Regions from separate parts of the Homo sapiens genome. Here all the other regions are linked to region 1. Evidence: fine-mapped expression QTL. A gene starts in region 1. Each other region holds a variant in brackets. All regions are shown on one strand. Distances are from middle to middle. Region 1 holds the start of ZFPM1 (zinc finger protein, FOG family member 1). Region 2 has its middle 13 kb from the start of ZC3H18-DT. Region 3 overlaps ZFPM1 (zinc finger protein, FOG family member 1). Region 4 overlaps ZFPM1 (zinc finger protein, FOG family member 1).

Region 1 (5,146 bases):
GAGGAGGCGCCCCGGGCCGCGAGCGACAGGGAGGGTCCGCGGCCCTGCCTTCCTCGTCCGGGCCCTTTCTCTGCCCCGGTCCCGGGCCGCAACGAGGATGGGCCGCGGTGGCTCACCGTGCACCCGCCGCGGTCCCAGTTCCCAAAGTGCGCGCGCTCTGCCCGCCCCGCTGGGCTGGGCTACGGGCTCTCGCTGGCGCTGGCGGCCTTATCAGCGCTGGAGATCGGTTTCCAACCTGCGATCTCCCTGTCCGAGCTATCTGCATTTCTCATCACAGTGAAACACCACACACACACACACACACACACACACACACACACACACACCCCAGAACCGAACATAGGCGCTCAGGGAAGGAAGGAAAAAGAAACCAGAGCACAAGCGCGGATCGGGACCTGTGGGTGGCTTTTAATACTTGAGTTGACACGATAGAAGGCGACTTTCGGAAAACAGGTCCCGTTTGCGCTGAGGGAGTTGGGTTACGGGAACCGGTTCATGCCTGTGACCCCCGCCTCGGGAGACCTCCTGAGTAGGGAAGCTCCCACAGGCCCCGCACAAGGGGTCCTGGTGGCAGTGGTCGTGTGGACAAAGGAGGTAGTGCCCGGGCGCCTACGGCTGGGCAGCGGGCGGGTTTCCGTCGTGGCCTCCTGGCAGGGCTCAGACGACCTGCCCGTCAGGCTCCGGGGAGGCGCCCCGGGGAGGAAGACCTGCGTCTGGGCCCTAACTGTGAGGCGCAAAGTTATTATTGGCATAGGGTGGGGAGGGTAGCTTCCTGTGCTCTTGCTCCCTCCTGGCACAGCCCAGAGGCCCAGGCCAGACAGTGGCCCCGACAGCTTAGTTCTCATCGCGGGGGCACTGGCAATGTGGCGGCGGGGCAGCAGCCTCTGACCGGGCAGGGAGCCGGACCAGCGAGAAACTTAGTGGCGTGCAGGGGCGACCCCGGCCCGGGGCTGCGTCCTGGGAGGCCCTTCTCTGACTCAGAGCAGCCCATTGGGATGCCAGGGGGTGCCCGCGGGCATCCGAGGGCACCATTTGTTGCCCATGCCGCCTTGGCTGGGACACTTGCAGGGTCCAGGAGGTGTCACCAGGCTGGCGGGGCCTGGGTTCAGGACTTCAGCGCTAGGGCACGGGGTGGGGGTGTCTGGGGGGCTGGAGCCAAGTGCCTAGGCTGCGGCAGCTGCGCGCTACCCCCTCCCCTGTCCTGCGGCTCTGCGACGGCACCGGTGGGGGTGGGCGCGGGCCGGTGCCTGCCACTTGGCCAGGCATCTCCGCGGCCCCGGGTGTCCCCTCTGCCTCCCAGGTCTCTCTCTTCGCTTCTAGATACAAAGCCTGGGAGAGTCAACCGCGCGAGATAAGATCACAATTTCAGCCCGTCCCGACAGAACGATCTTATCAGGACGGGACTTGCAGAATGTAATATTTTAAACTTTATCTGAGCCCAGATCGGGGCCGCCCTATCGCCGCACCATCTCGCAGATGCGGGGGAGGGGCAGGCCGCGAGGGGCCGAGCTGCCCGGGCCGCGCCCCCAAACACCCTCCTCCCGGCCTCCGGGCGGCCCCCTCCTGGGCTGAACCCCCCGGTGCCCAAGCCGAGACGCGGGGGCCCAGGCCGCCGGCGGAGATTAGATTACGGCGCGCTTGGCACAGCGCGGGGGGCGCGGCGCGGGGTGAAGGTCGCCGGCGCCCAGGGCAGAGCGGGGACGGGCGGGGGCGGCGCTGGCGGCTGGGCTCCGGCGGGGGTCGGGCGCGCGGAGGGGACCGCGGGCAAAGTTTGACTCACGCTTGATCTGCCGGGGGTTGCTCTGTTTCCGCCTGGACATGTCTCCGGCGCCGCGCGCCCTCCCGGCGGCCGCCTCTAGCCCCGGGCGGGCGGCGGCGGGCGGCGGGGGCGCGGCGGGGCCGCGGGGCCGCTCATGCCCCCGGCCCCCGGTCTCCGCGGCCGCCCCGGCCCGCGCCCCCAGCCCGCGCGCCCAGCCCCGGAGCCGCTGGAGCTGCCGCGGAGGCCCGAGAGGCCACGGTCCTGCGTTGCGGGCGCGCGGACTGCCCGACGGGCGGGTGCCGGCTCCTCCGCTCCCGCGCACTCGCCGCCGCCGCCGCGGCCGCTCGGCTTTTCTCAATGGAACCCGCGGGCGGCGAGCGGCGGAGCAGGCGGCCACTGCGAGGGCGCTCCTGGCGGGCTGGAGGCACGGGGCGGGGCCGGGCCTGAGCGTCGTCGGCCGCCGCACCTCCCGCCCCGCCCCCGGCGCTCCGGCCCCGCCCCGTGCCTCCTGCCGGGCCCTGCACCTCTCCGGCTCCGCCCCCAGCGCCGCGGCCACGCCCCCGCCAGCCCGGCTCTTCGTTGCTCTGGCTCCGCCCCCAGAGCCGCGACCGCGCCCCCGCCCGCCTCGCTCTTTACGGCGCTGGCTCCGACCCCAGCGCTGCGGCCCCGCCCCTGTCCGTCTGGGCCTTCAAGGCACTGTCCCCGCCCCGCTCGATGCCCCGCCCCTTCCTGGTTCGGCCCCGCCCGCGCCCCGGGGAGACCTCTAGCCTCCCCCACTCCTCTTTGGCCCGGAGGTCATGTCCCCAGGCCGCGCTGGGAGTCTGAGACCTATTCGGTTCTGTTCTGCTGCCCCGCGGCACCGCATCCTGCGCCCCGCCTCTCGGCGCCAGCTCCGCCTCCAAACCTGACCCGACCTGGTTGGGTCCTGAGACGCCGAGGCTCCGCCCCCGCACTGTAACTCCGCCCCCAGCCCTTGGTCCCTCCCTAGACCCCTGGGCTCTGCCGCACGCTCCACGTGCGCGGTGGGGGCAGTGACAACCGGCTCAGGAAGCCCGAGGCCTTGACGCCCACGTTTCTCTTGGGCCAGACTTGGGGTGTGGAGCGGATTCGGGCCAGGGAGGGGGCTTCCGTCCCAGACTGCGGTGGGGTCCGCCAACTGAGAGCAGGATCTCGGGTCTTCCCCTGTGAGCTCAGACCAGGCTGGAAATCGAGGAGGGGGCGCGGGAGCCGGCAGCCCTGGGCGTTGCCACTTGGGGCCTCTTTCCTCACCGAGCCTCTCCAGGGCGCCCCGCAGGAGACCCACGAAGGAGTTGCCCACAGCGCCCGGGCCACAGCCCCCTCTCGGAGCAGTCAGAGGTCAGCGAGGTTTGTGGGCGCGGTGCTGTCAGCTCAGGCCTGGAAATGGAGAACTGTTGCCCTCTGGGGTGTGTTCAAGAGCCCCACTTCACGGAGGCTCGGGGACTTGCTCAAGGTCACGCATTGGGGGGCTGTCCCCCACTCCCAGCTGAGTTGTATCATCTCCTTTTAATGTTCTCGGTCTACACTTGCTACCTGCTCCCCCATCCCCCGTACTCATAAGAAACGGGCGTCAGTGGGCCCAGGGGCAGACAGGAAGGACCCCTCCCACCTGATGATGAGATCATCGCACAGCAGGACTGTCACACCACCCGCCAGCCTGCTGGGAGCTCCTAAGACCCCATCTCGTGCCAACTTCTGTGACCTATTCCCTGGCTCCAAGGAAGGGGAGAAGTGGGGGCTTACCCTCAGAGCCTGGTACAGGAGAGTGGCGGGTGGGTAGGAGAGGCAGGGGTACAACACTGGATATGCGCCGTCCCTCCCCACTGCCATGGACAGACAGGAACACTGAGACCAGGAGGCCAAGAGAGCTGCCCAGGGGCATACGGGTCCTCCAGCCCTTCCTGCTCTCTGCCAGGGTCCAGTGGGCACAGCCTTCCCACAGCTGCTCTCTGGAGGGGGTGGGGCCCATGTCTGATTGGTTCACTCAACCTAGGACCTCCCCCCCACCCTCCCGCCCCCACCCAGTGCTTGTCAACTGGATGGAGCACCTACCTGTCTGGGTTTCCCACCAGGCCTCGCCTCCTTCCCCAAAGAAGTCCACTTTAGAGTATGTGGACCTGTGAGTTAGGGGAGTTCCTGGAGGAGGTGGCCATGGGCTGGCACCTGGGCTGGGTCTGAAGCTCCACGCACAGCAAGTGGCACCCAGGCTGGCGCTGCTGGAACGGGCGGAGATCTGTGTTGAGGTGGATTCCGAGGGTCAACAGGAGACAGCCATGATCATCCATGATTGATGTCTGTCTAGGCTGCAGGAGGAGACGATGGGGATCATTTTGGCTGCTGCTTTGCCTGATCTGATTTATTTCTATGAGCCCATATATAGATGAAAACATGGAGGGACATGCCCAGGGAAGCCAGCGAAGGGGGCAGGCGGCAGGTCCAGACCACAGCCTGCTGCCCTGCCTCCATCACTTGCAAGGCCCCATGCAAAATGAAAATATGAAAATGTGGAGCCCCCTTGATCAAAACCCCCAAACCCCAAAACCCCAGGGCATCAAGGGCAGGATGTTGAGCCCGGTGTGGTGCCCTTCCCAGCTCGGGCCCTGTGCCCCTGCACCGGTCACAGGTCCCCTAACCCTGCCAGGGCTGCTTTTGTAGCACATTCCTTCTACACTCTGTCCCTCTACCTGCCCGGAGGAAGGCATTATTACAGATGAGAAAACCGCAGCCAAGAGGGGAGGCTGCCTGCTGATGTCGAGTGGTAAAGCTGCAGGACCTTGCACACACCATTAAACCCTCAGGGTGGTCATGACGATAACCATACACTGAGGAAGAGACACAAGGCATGCTGTCTAGAGGATGGTCTGGGGGAGCCCAGAGCAGGAGCGGCCATCTCTGCCTGGGGAAATCAGAGAAGGCTTTCTGGAGAAGGTGACATCCAAGTGGGGCTTTCCAGGAGTCCCTGATCAGGTGGGAGAGGAACAGGGCGTGGGGTTGCTGAGGCTGTCCAGGCTGAGCCCACCTAGGACCTCCACCCCCCACCTGCTGCCCATTGTGAACCCCAGTTTCCATCTGCCCCTGCATGTTCTCGAGGTGTGTTGAGATTCACATCCAAAGTCACTGGTGGGGAAGTTGGAATTGCATTCAGGAGCTGCACTGGGTTCTCCCCTGCTGGCTCCCAGGGAGAGCAGGGCCTGGAACACATAGGAAGTGCTGTCTGGCAGTGGCCTGGAGACTGCCTCCCCTCCAAAAACAACCTCAGCCCAAAGAAGACATTTTTGGGGTTTGAGAAGTGGGGGTGTGCAGGGGTGGGCTGGGCCAGTGGACATGGAATTCCAGCCTTCTATTAGGAGTAGAGGGGTGTGATGGGGC
Region 2 (5,146 bases), 96 kb before region 1:
GTGGATTGCTTGAGGTTAGAAGTCCAAGACCAGCCTGACCAACATAGTGAAAACACATCTCTACTAAAACAAAAACAAAAACAAAAATTACCCACGTATGGTGGTGCACGCCTGTAATCCCAGCTACTCAGGAGGCTGAGGCAGGAGAATCGCTTGAACCCAGGAGGCGGAAGTTGCAGTTAGCCGAGATTGCACCACTGCACTCCAGCCTGGGCGACAGAGCAATTAGCCGGGTGTGGTGGTGCACACCTGTAGTCCCAAGTACTCGGGAGGCTGAGGCGGGAGGATGACTTGGGCCCAGGAATTTGAGGTGGTAGTGAGCTGAGATCACACCACTGCACTCCACCCTCACTCCAGGGTGACAGGGTGAGGCCCTGTCTCAAAAAGTAAATAAATAAGTAAATGAAAAATAAAAATGTGACAAGACCAGGTGCTCATTGATGAGTGAATGGAAAAACGAAATGGGGTCCATCTGTGCCTGGAAAATTCTTCAGCCATAAAAAGGAGTGGAACGCTGACACAGGCTACATTGGGACGAACCTTGAGACCCTTCTGCAGAGTGAAAGATGCCGGTCACGAGAGGCTACATGCGTGTGCCTCTGTGTCTCCAGAATGCACACAACAGGCAAAGCCACAGCAGGGGTAAGGACTGGGGGTGTCTGGGCTGGGGAGGGGGAGAGGCAGGCGGCTGCTAATGGGGTGGGTTTTTTTTTGTTGTTGTTTTTTGTTTTTTGAGACGGAGTCTCGCTCTGTTGCCTAAGCTGGAGTGCAGTGGCGTGATCTCAGCTCACGGCAACCTCCACCTCCTGGGTCCAAGCAATTCTCCTGCCTCAGCCTCCCAAGTAGCTGGGATTATAGGCCCACACCACCACACCCAGCTAATTTTTGTATTTTTAGTAGAGACGGGGTTTCACCCTGTTGGCCAGGCTGGTCTTGAACTCCTGACCTCAGGTGATCCACCTGCCTCGGCCTCCCAAAGTGCTGGGGTTACAGGCCTGAGCCACCTCGCCTGGCCTGAATTCGCATTTTAAAAGAGTCTTGGCCAGGCACGGTGGCTCACGCCTGTAATCCCATCTACTTGGGAGGCTGAGGCATGAGAATTACTTGAACCTGGGAGGTGGAGATTGCAATGAGCCCAGATCACACCACTGCACTCCAACCTGGGCAACAGAGACTCTTAAATAAATACATAAAGTCTCATTTGCATAATTTCATGTAATGATGAGCAGAGCCCTCTGAAGGTCATTATCCGGGCAGCCTCTCATCTGAGCTGGGCTCGGAGCCTGGACTGTCCTCTCCCGGGAGCCCCTTAGGCTCCGTGTTTTCATGGGCCAAGGTTGCTGTCAGACTGCCTGAGTCCCCAGGGCTCTGAGTCCGGCAGATGGTGTCCACGCCCATTTCCTCTTCTTTCCGCCAGCCTCACTGTAGCCTGGCCTTGCTACCTGGCCACTTCCTCCGGGCCATGCCGCTCCGGAAAGGAGCCCAAGGGCAGCCTTCTGTGTGGGGGCCACTGCGCCATCCGTGGGCCATGTGGGCTGCTCCAGAGGGCAAGGTCCCCGGCCTCCCTGGGTCAATCAGAGCTGGCTGTGCTTTGTCTGTTTGGTGGTAGAGCTGCGCCGTGCTGGGGACGGGGGTGCACACAGGAGGAGGCTCCTTCGGTTGGAGCAGAGTTGGGGTTGGGGTGGGGGCCACCCTCTCCCCTGGCCTGGCGTGGAAGGAGAGAACAGGCATGATGTGTGTCTTCTGGAAGATGGCAATGGGCACGGAGCAGAAGAAGACCAAAGGCCCGCCTGCAGCTCCCGTGTTTTGGTAGGGGCATTGCGCGTGTTCAGGAAGTGTGAGGTTCCTGTCTTCTCTGACAGCAAGGGCTCGGATCAGGAGCCAGGGGTAGGAGCGCAGACCTCAGGGGGAGATAACCAACCTTCACTCCCTCTGTGTTCTCTGGGCCTGTTCCCAGGTCAGAGGGCTGTGCTGGGGAGGTACCACACAGTTGGACTCAGCTACAGCTAAGTTTTGATTGAAGGCTCCTCCCAGGCACTCACCCTCTTAACCCTCTCAAGTGAGCCCCCGCTGGGTGCCTGAGCTGCAGGAACCTGCAAAACACCTTTGTCCCTCCCAGGCTTCAGACTGACTTCAGAGTTTCTTTTCTTTTTTTCTTTTTTTTTTGAGATGGAGTTT[C/T]GCTCTGTCCCCAGGCTGGAGTGCAGTGGCGTGATCTCGGTTCACTGCAACCTCTGCCTCCCAGGTTTAAGTGATTCTTCTGCCTCAGCTTCCCGTGTAGCTGGTATTATGGGTGCGCATCACCACACCCGGCTAATTTTTGTATTTTTAGTAGAGACAGGGCTTCACCATGTTGGCCAGCATGGTCTTGATCTCTTGACCTTGTGATCCACCTGCCTCGGCCTCCCAAAGTGTTGGGATTACAGGCATGAACCACCATGCCCGGCCTCTTGTTGCTATTTAGAGGAGAACAAATGACTTACAATCTAACGCAGATCAGAAGTGACTGCCAGTGTTTCTGACTGAGACTTAGATAACGAGTCACTCTGATGTTTGCACAGCAGTTTGAAGCAACACGATGTCTCCTTTTGTGAAATTAACTCTGAAATGGCCCCACGTTTAAAGAAGTGACTTTATTCTGCTTTGATATTTCAGCTCATTTTGAAACCCAAGCTTGGTCTCCTCTCTTTGCCGTGTGAATTGTCTATGGATTCCGGCTGAAAGCGGCGGACCCTGGCTGGTGGGTGCAGGTGCAGTACAGTTAGAGCTGGAGGCAGTCCTGCCTCGTGCAGCCACTGCCGGCGCTCGGGATGTAACCACTTGGACCCTCTGTTTCGTCTTCAGTAAAACAAAGCCAGCACCAAAAGGGTTAAGATTGGAACAGACTTTCCTCAACTCTGATCCATGGACCTGTGCGTTGGTGCCAATGTCTTCATCGATGTACAGTGAAACGAGGAAAAGGAGCGCCAAGTGGAATAAATCATTCATGTGGGCCGGGCGCGGTGGCTCACGCCTGTAATCCCAGCACTTCGGGAGGCCAAGGCAGGTGGATCGCTTGAGCCCAGGAGTTTGAGAGCAGCTTGGGCAACATAGGGAGAACTCGTCTCTATTAAAAAAAATAATACTTTCGTGTAAAAGGCTTTTTGTGCAGAGATTGTGCTATCCTACTGTATTTGGTGCTAAAAGGTGCTTTTATGAGATATTGAGACTATTGAGCAATAGTTAAAAAAATTAATGTCAGTATCTGGAAAAAACATAAGGTTAGAGTCCTATGCTAACCCGGAAGTGATTGTCGACAGTTTTCTGGTTTGTGATTTTTCCAAAGTCTGGGGACCCCTGTTCGGGGTGGCGCTGCCTCACTGGTGCCTTCAGGTGAACCCTGGCTGGGGGAAGAGTCCCCGGGAGGGAGCTGGGCCCAGCTATTCAGCCCAGCCAGAGCAGAGAAGGCAGTCGGTCAACATGCAGGCCCTGCCCCGGGCTTTGGTGCCAGATAAAGGGATGTCCCAGGAGTTCCTCTGAGACCCTGGAGCCTGTGGCTGGTGCGTGTGGGAGGAAGGGAGGTGTGAGCCAGGCGCCCAGACCACAGGGCTGGTGGGTGGGGCAGGAAGAGGGCCAGTGCCCCACATGAACCTGCCAGGGCTGTGGGCCTGGAAGCCCCTTCCCCCGGGAGGGTGACAGGGTCATTGACGGTGACCACCTGGCTGGTGCTGACGTGGAGGGTGGGGATTGGAGCCACTGGGGTGGGACCCTCTGGCCATCCACTGGGAACCCCACCTTACAGGGGAAAGGGCAGTGGCGGTCAGGCTGCTGTCAATCCCTACTGTAGTGTGTGGGTGGGGGCTCCGTGCCCTGGAGACCCCCGATCATCTTTCTGGCCACAGGATGTCCTGCCTGTTCTATGCCTCCTGGGTGTGGGGGGAACCAAGGGTCCAGGAGGGGAACTGTGCAGTCTCATGGATCAAAAGGGCCAAGGTGGGGTGAGGCCAGGGTGTCTGCAGCCCAAGCACATACCCATGAGTTTCACACTTGGATGGTTGTCACCCTCTGTTCCCTCACCTTCCCCACCCTCTGTCCCCTCACCTTCCCCACCCTCTGTCCCGTCGCCTTCCCCACCCTCTGTCCCGTCGCCTTCCCCACCCTCTGTCCCCTCGCCTTCCCCACCCTCTGTCCCCTCGCCTTCCCCACCCTCTGTCCCCTCGCCTTCCCCACCCTCTGTCCCCTCGCCTTCCCCACCCTCTGTCCCCTCGCCTTCCCCACCCTCTGTCCCCTCGCCTTCCCCACCCTCTGTCCCCTCGCCTTCCCCACCCTCTGTCCGGTCACCTTCCCCACCCTCTGTCCCCTCGCCTTCCCCACCCTCTGTCCCGTCACCTTCCCCACCCTCTGTCCAGTCACCTTCCCCACCCTCTGTCCCCGCACCTTCCCCACCCTCTGTCTCCTCACCTTCCCCACCCTCTGTCCCCGCACCTTCCCCACCCTCTGTCCCCGCACCTTCCCCACCCTCTGTCCGGTCACCTTCCCCACCCTCTGTCCCCTCGCCTTCCCCACCCTCTGTCCCCTCGCCTTCCCCACCCTCTGTCCCCTCGCCTTCCCCACCCTCTCCTCGCCTTCCCCACCCTCTGTCCCCTCGCCTTCCCCACCCTCTGTCCCCTCGCCTTCCCCACCCTCTGTCCCCTCGCCTTCCCCACCCTCTGTCCCCTCGCCTTCCCCACCCTCTGTCCCCTCGCCTTCCCCACCCTCTGTCCCCTCGCCTTCCCCACCCTCTGTCCCCTCGCCTTCCCCACCCTCTGTCCCCTCGCCTTCCCCACCCTCTGTCCCCTCGCCTTCCCCACCCTCTGTCCCCTCACCTTCTCCACCCTCTGTCCCCTCACCTTCTCCACCCTCTGTCCCCTCACCTTCCCCACCCTCTGTCCCCTCACCTTCTCCACCCTCTGTCCCCTCACCTTCCCCACCCTCTGTCCCCTCACCTTCTCCACCCTCTGTCCCCTCACCTTCTCCACCCTCTGTCCCCTCACCTTCCCCACCCTCTGTCCCCTCGCCTTCTCCACCCTCTCTTCCCTCACCTTGTCCACCCTCTGTTTTCTCACCTTAGAAATGAGCAGAAAGGTGCAGAGATGGGCGATGGGTCTGGACAGATGTTTCTCCATAGACA
Region 3 (5,126 bases), 84 kb before region 1:
TGGGCTTCTGCTAGGCCTGAGCTTTCTGTAAGCCAGGGCGTGGCTGGGAGCCAGTGCCCAGCAGTACGGCTGGTGGTCGAGAACCGAGTGCTGGAAGCCAGCAGAGGGATGTGTCCTGGCCCAGCTGTGCCCGCCAGGTGCCTGGGCAGGAGGTGTGTCCCGATGGAACCTTGGGGCCCTCGTGCACAGTCAGGGCACTCAGCCCATGGTGTGGCTGAGAGGACAGACCCTGTGCCTGGCAGAGGAAGGGGCCTCAGGAGGGCGAGGCTGCCCTGCATCATCTCGTGGACGTTGTGTCCCAAGTAGCGTGAGGGACTCCCGGCAGGCTGGGCTGACCCTGCCTGGGAGTTGCCAGCCTGCAAGGGGCTTTGAGCTGTATGCAGCTCAGGTAGAAGGGAGCAGGTGCCCTCCTGGAAGAAGGAGGGTGGAGGCGGGAGGCCCATCCTGTGCAGGGCAGGGGACGGGTACAGCCTGGCTGGGTGGCCCTGAGGGGGACCTTTTAAGCCAGTCTTGAGGAGAGAAGGAGTTTCACAGGCAAAGCTGGGGGGAGTGGGGAGGGGGGAGGAGTGGGGAGAGAGCAGCTTGGAATGCAGCGGTCCGAGATCCAAGAAGCTCAGGTCACACATGGGACTCAGTGGACAGTGTGATTGGAGAGTGGGCTGTGACGGTGGCCGTGTGCCATGAGTGGACAGTGTGGCTGGAAAGTGGGCTGTGACAGTTGGACTGACTGCTGGGCATGGGGAGGGGCTGGCTGTGGTCCACACACACCCCTGTGACTTCAACAGATGCAGACCCCTCCTCTGTGTCGGCCACTTGTGGGTGCCTGGGAGGCAGAGGTCAAGCAGGCGCAGCCCCAGCTTTCAAAGGAGACAGGCCAGTAGGCGACGGGCAAGAGGACAGAGATGCAGAGTGACCGTTCCTACGTGGGAGTGAGCTGGGGACAGAGGTGCAGAGTGACCATTCCTACACGGGAGCGAGCTGGGGACAGAGGTGCAGAGTGACCGTTCCTACGCGGGAAGTGAGCCAGGGACAGGTCTGAGGGGGCACCTAAGCTGAGAGCTGGATGACAAGGACAGCCTCGGAGGAGTAGAGAGGGCATCAGGAGGCACTGCCTGGAGCAACCAGCTGCAGCATGGAGCCCAGCGGGTGGTGGGCTTAGCAGGGCCAGGGGCTGCCGTCGGGACAGGCCGCCAACGGGAGGCTCCTCTCCTCTGTGCTGAGGCAGAGAAGGGGGACTTCTGACCTCTGAAGGATGGGGCCAGTAACAGAAGGGGTTTTACGCGAAGCACAGGCACCTGGGGGCGGGGACGGGCCTCAGAGCAGGGTGAGCCTGGGAGAGGGGAGCGGTGGCAGCTGTGTGAGGAGTGGACCCTCGAGATTTGGAAGCGGCTGTTCAGAGAGACTCAAGGGTGAAGTCCCAGGTCTGGGAGTCGGCGATGGTGGATGGGTTTGGGAAGCGGTGGGATTTGGACAAATCAAGCATTGCTTTGACAATGAAGGGTGAATAGGCAAGGCTGATGCTCTCCAGCTTGAGGGGCAGGGGGCCACTGAGGATGCCTATGCAGGTGAGGGGAGGAGACAGGTGGGCTGGTGGGGAGACAGGTGGGCTCGGGGTGATGCCTGTGCAGGTGAGGGGAGGAGACAGTGAGCCAGGGGGGTGCTTGCACTGGTGTGGGGAGACAGGTGGGCTTGGGGGAGGGGAACACCTGCACAGGTGTGGGCAGAAGTTACAGGTGCGTGGGGTTACAGTCACTCATGGTACATCAAGGGCCTGGAAGGACACAGGGGCTGTAGGTCTGCAGGTCTGGGGCTCAGGGGAGGCGTGGCTAGACTACAGAATTAGTGGAGAGAAGACCATGAGCCCACCCCAGGAGTGTGGAGGGAGAACTTCAAGGGGAGACCAGGGCAGACTCAGAGCCTTGAACCTGGCTCAGCAGAGAACCAGCTGGGGGGCCGAGGGGGTGTCTGTGAGCAGGGCAGGCAGCTTCCTGGGGAGAGGCGGGAGAAGGCCTGGGCCACCACCGAGTCAGCGGCTACAGGGGAGGCACAGGGTGGAGGCCCAGGCGGTGGTCTGGTGGGGGGAGACTGGGGTGATGGCTTGAGGGAGTAGGGGTGACTGATGGCGTCTGCCAGGTGTGGGGGCCCCAGGGTCTGTGCAGAAGACGCGTGCCCGAGGCGAGTCCTGGGTGCGATGGGGACGGGCTCTGGCCACACGCCAATGACCTGGGACGGGCGATGGCAGCGGTACCCAGCCCTGCATGGTGGGGACAGTAGGGGGTTATGCAAGCCAGGACAGGCGCAGGGCCCTTCGTGAGGCTCAGTGTGCTGCCCTAAGCTTCGAGTCCGGGCCGTGGCGGGGCCCTCTGGGGTGACTTCAGGTCTGGGTCCCGGTCACAGGGTCCTTGCTGCCTCTGAGATGAGCCCCCAGGAAGGGTTGCCAGGCCCGAACTCCCACTCCTGCGGCACAGGTGTGGACACTGAGGCACGTCTGGGTGCATGGCGGGTTTGTGCGGCACTGCTGGGCTGTCTTCCAGATTCTCCTCTGCGTCTTGCATTCCAGGGCCTCGCTTGGTCAGGTTTGGGGTGGGGCTCAAAGGGGGTGAGGACACTGGAGTTGTGTTTTTTACCCCCTTTGAGCACCTGTCACTCACCAGAGACTGTATTCGTAGTTTCTAGACACCTTTAAACAGTTTACTTTTAAATGTACACACAGTGACAACCCCCCACCAGGTTTCTATTTTTTAGAACATCTTGTACCCTGCGCC[C/T]GCACCTGGGGAGGACTTGGGGGCAGAGCCTCCTGAACCCTCCACGCAAATTCATGCACAACAATGCAAATGATGAGCAGACTTGAGGGGTCCGTGCCTCCCGTCCCCGCTATCACCTGGTCTTCAACAGAAGGGGTGTCTGTGAGGAAAAGGCTGCTTGCCTTCCCTGGAGCTCAGGTCCCTGGGAGGGGGTGGAAGCCATGTCTGTCCATTGGCCTTGGCTACGGGCCCCATCTGGCCAGACCCTAGTGGGCAGGTGGACAAAGACATCAGAGACCACTGAAAGCGCTGCAGACCCAGGCCCACGAGCTGCGGGCAGGAGAGCGAGCCCTGGACTGGCTGGGAAGTGCCTCGGGCTTCTGAGGCAAGAGGCCGCTGCCTTCTTTGCCTGCACTCACCAGGGCTGCTGGGCAAAGCTGAAAAAAATGCAGCTAGTTCAAGTAGAGTTGGAAATGGGCTGGGAATGGTAGCTCGCGCCTGTCATCCTAATGTTCTGGGAGGCTGAGGCTGCAGGAGCACTGGAGGTCAGGAGTTTGAGACCATCTTGGGCAACACAGGAAGACCCTGTCTCTATAAAAATGTTTTAAAAGTTAGCCAGGTGTGGTGGGTCAAGCCTGTAGTCCCAGCTACTTGGGAGGCTGAGGCAGGAAGATGGTTTCAGCTCAGGAGTTTGAGGCTGCAGTGACTTATGATCGTGCCACTGAACTTCAGCCTGGGGAACCGAACAAGACCTTAGCTCTAAAAAATATAGGGTTGCCCAGCCTGGGCAACATAGGGAGACACCATTTCTACAAAAAACACAAAAACTAGCTGGGCATGGTGGTGTACACCTGTAGCCCCAGCTACTGAGGAAACTGAGGTGGGAAGATCACTTGAGCTCACGAGGTCAAGGCTGCAATGAGCCGTGAGTATCCCAGGGACTCCAGCCTGGGCAAGAGAGTGAGACCCAAAAATAAAAAAATAAAGTGACGTTGGGAATAGAAGAGTGTTTTTGTTCTCCAGTGAGAAAGCACGCTGGAGGCTGCCCACAGCCACCCAGCTGCAAACGGCACGGTGACACCGTGGCTGAACGCGGTCAGCCAAGTACTCCCTCAGTGTGGCCGGCCCATACAGCCCAGCAGGGCAGGGAAGACGGGGGGTGGGGGTGCCCTGACCCTTGCACCGACTCAGCCACCACAGGTGACTCCACCACACGGTTGTCCTCAGCCCTGGCTCTGAGGGAGAGATGCACCCACCAGTGAGCATCAGGACCCCCTCGAGGCCAGGGAATGCTTCGGCCTCGGTCTCCCTCTCCTGTCCACCTACTCGCCTGTTCTTCCCCCAGCCTTGGCCACCACAGGGCTTCATCCTCCCCAGGGCGCCCCCACCCCTGCCATCCCTGGTGGTCTGTGACTGGATGGGGGACATCGGACCCCCAGGACCATGCAGGGTTGGGGGATGGCCAGCCAGGTCAGTGCCCCTCTCTTCCGTGTCTGGCGGCCAAGTAGACCGTGGAGAGGGTCAGCAGTGTGGAGGCTGCTCTCCCTAGGGGGGTATGGACAGGGCTGGGGTGGGGTAGGCCCAGAGCGGCTGGCCCTGCAGTGGTTCAGTGTGTGCTGTGGCCTCCGACCTGACGCTCGGTCTAGCTCTTAGCACCCAGTGGTGTAACTCCGGCAGGGGCCCAGCCACTCCGGGCCGCAGTGGCCTGTGTACACAGCAGGGCTGGATGTGACACTGGCTGCGTGTGCCTGCTGGCTCAGAGAACTAGGCTGGCCCACCACCATGCTCATCAAACTGAACTTCTTTATTAAGTGCCAAGGGTCCAGGCGGGCGCTGCCCCCTGCGGCCCCCTCCGCCGAGGCCTGTGCGTGGCGGGGTTCCCAGGAGCGGCAGTCCGTGCGGCCTGGGGGCGGCCCCCTCCCCGCATCGCAGCGGGGCGTGCAAAGCGTCTGCGGCTGTAGTGTGGGCGCTCACTTCACGTGCTCGGCGGCGTGCGAGGAGCAGTAATACTTCTTGTGGGCGATGAAGGTGGACAGGCTGCTGAACTTGATGTTGCAAAGACGGCAGTACCGGTGGTTGCCGTTGGGCAGCGGCGCCGGCGTGCCCTTGCTGGGAGTCTGGACGCCCTTGTCCGAGTAGGAGGGGGGCGCCGGCGGGGGCGGCACGGCCTCGGGCGCGGCGGCCGGGGACGGGGGCGGGCCGGGCGGCGGCTCCTGGGGCTCCGGGCCGAGGCCGTCCCGGGGGCCACGGGACCCGGGCTGCGGGGAGGCGGCGGGGGCGGGAGCGGGCGAGGGGCCGCGGTCGGCCGGCGTCCGGGCCTCGACCCCCGGGCCGGCCAGGGGCGCGCCGAGCAGCAGGCCGTGCGCCAGGCGGAAATGCTCC
Region 4 (5,146 bases), 48 kb before region 1:
TAACTGGGGTACAGGGCCTGTGCCCCGGGGTGAGCCCAGCCCCATGTGAGTCCCGGAGGCAGAAGGTGCTTCCGTGAACTGTGAATGTGTCTCCTCTTCTAAAAGTCACGTGTGATTTTATGGGAAGCCACAGAGGGTGCTGCCATGGCACCGATCACCCCAACACAGATGAGAAGACCGAGGTCAGAGAGGACCTGGCTCCACAGAGAGGCAGCTGGCTGTGAGTCAGATGCAGGCCAGGCAGAGGGTGGGAAAGACCAGGAAGCAGGAGGAGCCCTGGAGGCAGAACAGGCCGGCCCCTCCCCAGACACAGATCCCTCCACTCAGGAACCGTGGGCCCCCCAGACACAGATCCCTCCACTCCGGAACCGTGGGCCCCCCAGACACAGATCCCTGCACTCAGGAACCGTGGCCCCCCAGACACAGATCCCTCCACTCAGGAACCGTGGGCCCCCCAGACACAGATCCCTCCACTCAGGAACCGTGGGCCCCTCCCCAGACACAGATCCCTCCACTCAGGAACCGTGGGCCCCCCAGACACAGATCCCTCCACTCAGGAACCGTGGGCCCCTCCCCAGACACAGATCCCTCCACTCAGGAACCGTGGCCCCCCAGACACAGCTCCCTCCCCTGTGCCGCTGCTCAGGACCCACGGGGGTCCCCACTGGCCCCTGAATCAAGCACTGTGCTACAGTGGGGGTTCCTGTCCCAGGGGCGCCGTGCTCATCCACCCACCCTGCCCCGCGGAGCAGCGCCCCTGCCACCTCCCACCTGCCGAAGAGACCGCACACAGCCTTCCAGCCCTGAGGGGCCTTCATGGCTGGTGGGGTTGGAGGAACGACAGCTAAAGGCGGGTGGGGGTGGCGAGCGCTCTGAGGGCAGCCCCGGATCTGCCGTCCGGCCACCGTGTGTGCAGAGACCCACAAACGGGCATCCACGTGGCCTCTGCTGCCCTTAGAACATCCTTCTCTGGAAGAAACGTGGCAAGACAGCAAAAATTTAAAAAAATAAATGGCTTGCCATCTTTGACATGCTGACCTGAGCCCGCCCATGCCGGGATGATTTTTCTGGGATAAATTCCCAGGAGCCAACTGCTGAGTCAAGGGAAGCAGCAGCTGCTGGCGCTGGGGCAGCCCGGACCGGGTGGCTCCGACCTGCGAGGTGGGGACCCTCGGCTAGGGGGGGTCACCAAGGCCACTGCCTCCAGCAGCACTGGACGGGAAGGGACAGTGGGGCTCTGGGAGGCTGGGGACAAGCCCAAGACCTACAGTGACTCCAGGGTGGATCCAGATGGGAACCTGGGGCCAAAGACCCTGTCCATGGCCCCGGGCGGCCCACAGGGCACAGGGACGGGGTTGGGGGACATGGAGGGGCAAGCACAGAGGCGTCAGGCCTATGGGGCAGAGGTGGGTCCTGAGTGCCCGGCGCCCGGGCCCCTGGGCAGGGCGGGAGAGGGCGGGGGGCCGGGGTGGGAGGCACCCTCACGAGACGCAATAAACCCGAGATAGCATCTTGCCGCATCTCAGGCCCTGCTCGGCCCTTTCGGGCAGGATATGACCAGCCCTCGAGCCGATGGCGGCCCCTTTGTCCCATCTCCGGGGACCGATCTTATCAGCTGCGTCCACGGCCGCTGTAATGGAAAAGCGCAGTGAGGAAATAAAAAGTTACACGCAGAGAAGGAGGAGAGATAAATAAATAAATAAATAAATAAATAAATAAATAAATAAATAAATGGGGGGGGGCGGGTGGAGCCGCGTCGGGGGTGGAGGAGCTACTAGGAGTGTTAAACCATGGGTTGGGGCGTTTGCAGGGCTGGGGTCAGGAGGTCAGGGCTCACCGGCCTGGTCTCCACCTCGGATGAACCACGTGAACTCACTGGGCCTCAGTTTGCTCATCGGCCCAGGAGCCCCCTCGCGGGCTGGGGTTGATCCCATGGCAAACAGCAGTGGCAGGAGGGCCCTGCACCCACGCCCACTACCTCCATCACCAGCACCAGCGGCAGGGCCCTGCACCCATGCCCGCTATCTCCATTATCATCAGCACCAGCGGGAGGGCCCGGCACCCACACCCGTTACCTCCATCATCAAGAGCACCTGCGGGAGAGGCCCTGCACCCACACCCGCTATCTCTATCATCACCAGCACCTGCGCGATGGCCCACGCACCCAGGCCCACTATCTCCATCATCACCAGTACCTGCGGGAGAGCCCATGCACCCACACCCGCTATCTCCATCATCACCAGCACCTGCGGGATGGCCCACGCACCCATGTCTGCTATCTCTATCATCACCAGCACCTGCGGGAGGGCCCACGCACCCATGTCTGCTATCTCTATCATCACCAGCACCTGCGGGATGGCCCCCGCATCCATGTCTGCTATCTCCATCATCACCAGCACCTGCGGGAGGGCCCCGCACCCATGTCTGCTATCTCCATCATCACCAGCACCTGCGGGAGGGCCCCGCACCCATGTCTGCTATCTCCATCATCACCAGCACCTGCGGGAGGGCCCCCGCACCCAGGCCCACTATCTCCATCATCACCAGTACCTGCGGGAGAGCCCATGCACCCACACCCGCTATCTCCATCATCACCAGCACCTGCGGGAGGGCCCCCGCACCCATGTCTGCTATCTCCATCATCACCAGCACCTGCGGGATGGCCCCCGCATCCATGTCTGCTATCTCCATCATCACCAGCACCTGCGGGAGGGCCCCCGCATCCATGACCGCTACCTCCATCACCAGCAGTGGTGTCTCAGTTTCCCTCCTGGGCAGGAGGAGGTGGAGAAGTCAGGCCAGTGTGGGGAGGGGCCAGCCTTAGAGACCCTGACATATCCCCAGCCAAGGCTGCACCCCCACAGGGAGGGCCC[G/A]CTGTACCTGTCGGTCAGGTGAGGACACCGAGGTGCCGTCTAGGGACCCAGCACTGTGCCCAGGACCTGGCTCAGCCCAGGGTGGCCAAGATCCGAGCTGACCACGCAGACTTGCTGGGAAAGAGAAACTGTGGGCCCTGCCCTGCCCCAGCAGCCCCAGGGAGCCTGAACTGTCCTGTCCACGTCTCACAGATGAGGACCCTGAGCCCAGAACAGGGCACAACAGGCCCCAGGTCTGCGGTGAGAGAGGTGACACCTGGAAGCTGAGTCTGCCGTTGTGCCAGCGGGAGGGTTGGTGCCAGTAACGGCAACAGCACTGCTGGCAGCAACAGTCCTAGCAAGGTGACAGAATGACCCAGAGTGACAGCGACAGCACCAGCAAGGTGACAGCGGCCAGGCCAGCAGCAGCACTCTCTAATAGCGCTGTTTCTGTGCTAGTGACAGTCACGGTGCCCACGCTGGTGGTGACACGGGTGTAGTGGTGGGAACAAGGGCAGCTGGGGCAGCAGCTGCCAGCGACACGCTTGTGGCTTGCCCAGCGCCTGCCCACTGTCCCAAGGGTCCTCCCAAGAGCGCCCTGTGGCCGTCTTCCTGACGAGGCCACCAGCTCATGGGGGGAGCTGGCTGTGTCCCCGGCCATGCGGCAGGCCCAGGAGGGGCAAGGAGGGAAGCTTCTGGGCAGTAGCCGGGGCTCCAGGGGCTCGCCCAGGTGACTCTGGTGGGCCTGCCCCCGAGATGTCTGGGAGGGGCCGGTAGGGCAACGGCGGGGCCTGGGTGGGGGCTGGTGGTGGGGGATGGCCGGGGCAGGAAGCCGGGTGGGAGGGCGGAGGAGGAAGCCAGCTTGATTAGCGCCTGCGGCCGAGATAGGCTGCCCTGGCCACAGATAGCCTCTCCCGGAAGGTGGTGAGGCCAGAGGGCAGCACGGCAGGCAGCCAGGCCCGGCCCCCGCCCCCCAACCACCAGGATGGCTGGAGACCCAGGGCTCCGGCTGCGCTCCTCATGGGGCATCCACTGTCCGCTCACCCTCTGCTGGCATGGGGCCGAGGAGGGGCCGGGGAGCCCACGGGACTTGGGGGCTGGACCCGGAGAGGCTGGATGGGTGGGCCTGGGCCCTTCCCTGGGAGGCAGGCCTGTGGGCTCTGTGCCCACTCGGCCCCTCCCCAGCATGGGGGTGGGGTGGCTACCTCACCTCTCCTGGCCTCAGTTTCCCATCTGTGAATGGGGACACTGCCCACTTCAGCCAAGCCCTTTCTCAGATCTCCCTCTGTCTGCCCCTGAGCCGTCCTCCACCCAGCCAGCGGGATTCAGGGGCCACCCAGGTGGGGTCCCCCACACTGCACGCAGACCTGCTCCGTGTCCAGCCTGCTAGGCACCAGGCTCCGCCCTGTCCACGTGCGCGGTCCTGCCTGCCCCCTGGCCCCTTCGCTGCTCCCAAAGTCAGCTGGGCCGGCCCCACCCCAGGCCTCTGTACCCGGCTTCCTCTGCCCTGGCCTGCGTCTCCCACCCGCTGCGCGGCCCCCACGACTGCTCTCTTCTCCTCCGCGGCTGCTCTGGAGGAGGTCTGTTTTCCTCACGCTGCATCCCCCTGTCTATCACAGGGCTGGCACATAGCTTGTGCTCAATAAATGGAAGTACAAGGGAGTGAGTGAGTGCCGGCTCTGCCTGCGATTTCGGGACTTCGAGGCCCAGGTGACTTTCCCGGGGTGGAGGCTGAAGTCAGGGCCAGGTTCAGGAGGCGGCTTCTGTATGGCCAGGGCTGGGGTGGGTGCGGGAGGTCAGCCAGGCCCCAGGGTGCCGGCAGCCTGGTCATGGGGGAGCCACGGGGGCCGTTGGGGAGCTGGGGATGAAGGAAGGGGAGCCGGCCTCGGGGGCTGCAGATGGCTCTGGCCCCAAGCTCAACCCTGTCCAGGGGCTCCGCCCACAGGGCCTTGCGTGGAGAGGCAGGCCTGGGGTCTGGTGGTGCAGGCAGGACCCGGGTGCAGCCCCCACCCAGGCCTGGGGCCAGTGCTTGGGAGAGGGGAGGGAAGGGTGTCATGGGAAGGCTCAGGGCCAGGGGCAGCCAAGGTGTCCACGCCAACGACCCAGGGTCAGGCCAGCCAGAGCCTGCGACCTCTGAACTCAGTTTCCAAGATAACCACCCTCTGCAGCCGCAGGCCCAATGTGATGGGGCCTCAGGCTCTGAGCTGACTGCTGCCTCACCCCTGCGATCACTCCAGATTAGAGGGGTGCCCCCGGCTCCGGGACTGCGCCCTCGGCCTGGGACACCGTTTCCA

The links. PIP is the estimated chance that this variant, and not a neighbour inherited with it, causes the effect.
Region 2: its variant is fine-mapped to the expression of ZFPM1 in whole blood (TOPMed, PIP above 0.99). The same link has a PIP of 0.9 or more in blood mononuclear cells.
Region 3: its variant is fine-mapped to the expression of ZFPM1 in whole blood (TOPMed, PIP above 0.99).
Region 4: its variant is fine-mapped to the expression of ZFPM1 in whole blood (TOPMed, PIP above 0.99).

What each region holds. Positions count from the first base shown.
Region 1 is chr16:88,450,313-88,455,458 of GRCh38, reverse strand. ZFPM1 (zinc finger protein, FOG family member 1) reads right to left here and starts at 2,179. Exons shown (of 10, transcript NM_153813.3): 1 at 1,781-2,179. The coding sequence starts at 1,820. RefSeq lists silencers at 1-234, 1,175-1,244, 1,465-1,594, 2,055-2,144, 2,155-2,454.
Region 2 is chr16:88,546,778-88,551,923 of GRCh38, reverse strand. No RefSeq gene overlaps it. Among named protein-coding and RNA genes, the nearest start is that of ZC3H18-DT, 13 kb to the left of the region's middle. The variant C/T (reference allele first, on the strand shown) is at 2,179.
Region 3 is chr16:88,534,568-88,539,693 of GRCh38, reverse strand. It overlaps ZFPM1 (zinc finger protein, FOG family member 1), which reads right to left. Exons shown (of 10, transcript NM_153813.3): 10 at 2,663-5,126. The coding sequence ends at 4,715. Among named protein-coding and RNA genes, the nearest start is that of ZFPM1-AS1, 6.1 kb to the right of the region's middle. RefSeq lists a silencer at 5,047-5,126. The variant C/T (reference allele first, on the strand shown) is at 2,766.
Region 4 is chr16:88,498,653-88,503,798 of GRCh38, reverse strand. The region is part of intron 3 of ZFPM1 (zinc finger protein, FOG family member 1); the gene reads right to left. Among named protein-coding and RNA genes, the nearest start is that of ZFPM1-AS1, 30 kb to the left of the region's middle. The variant G/A (reference allele first, on the strand shown) is at 2,874.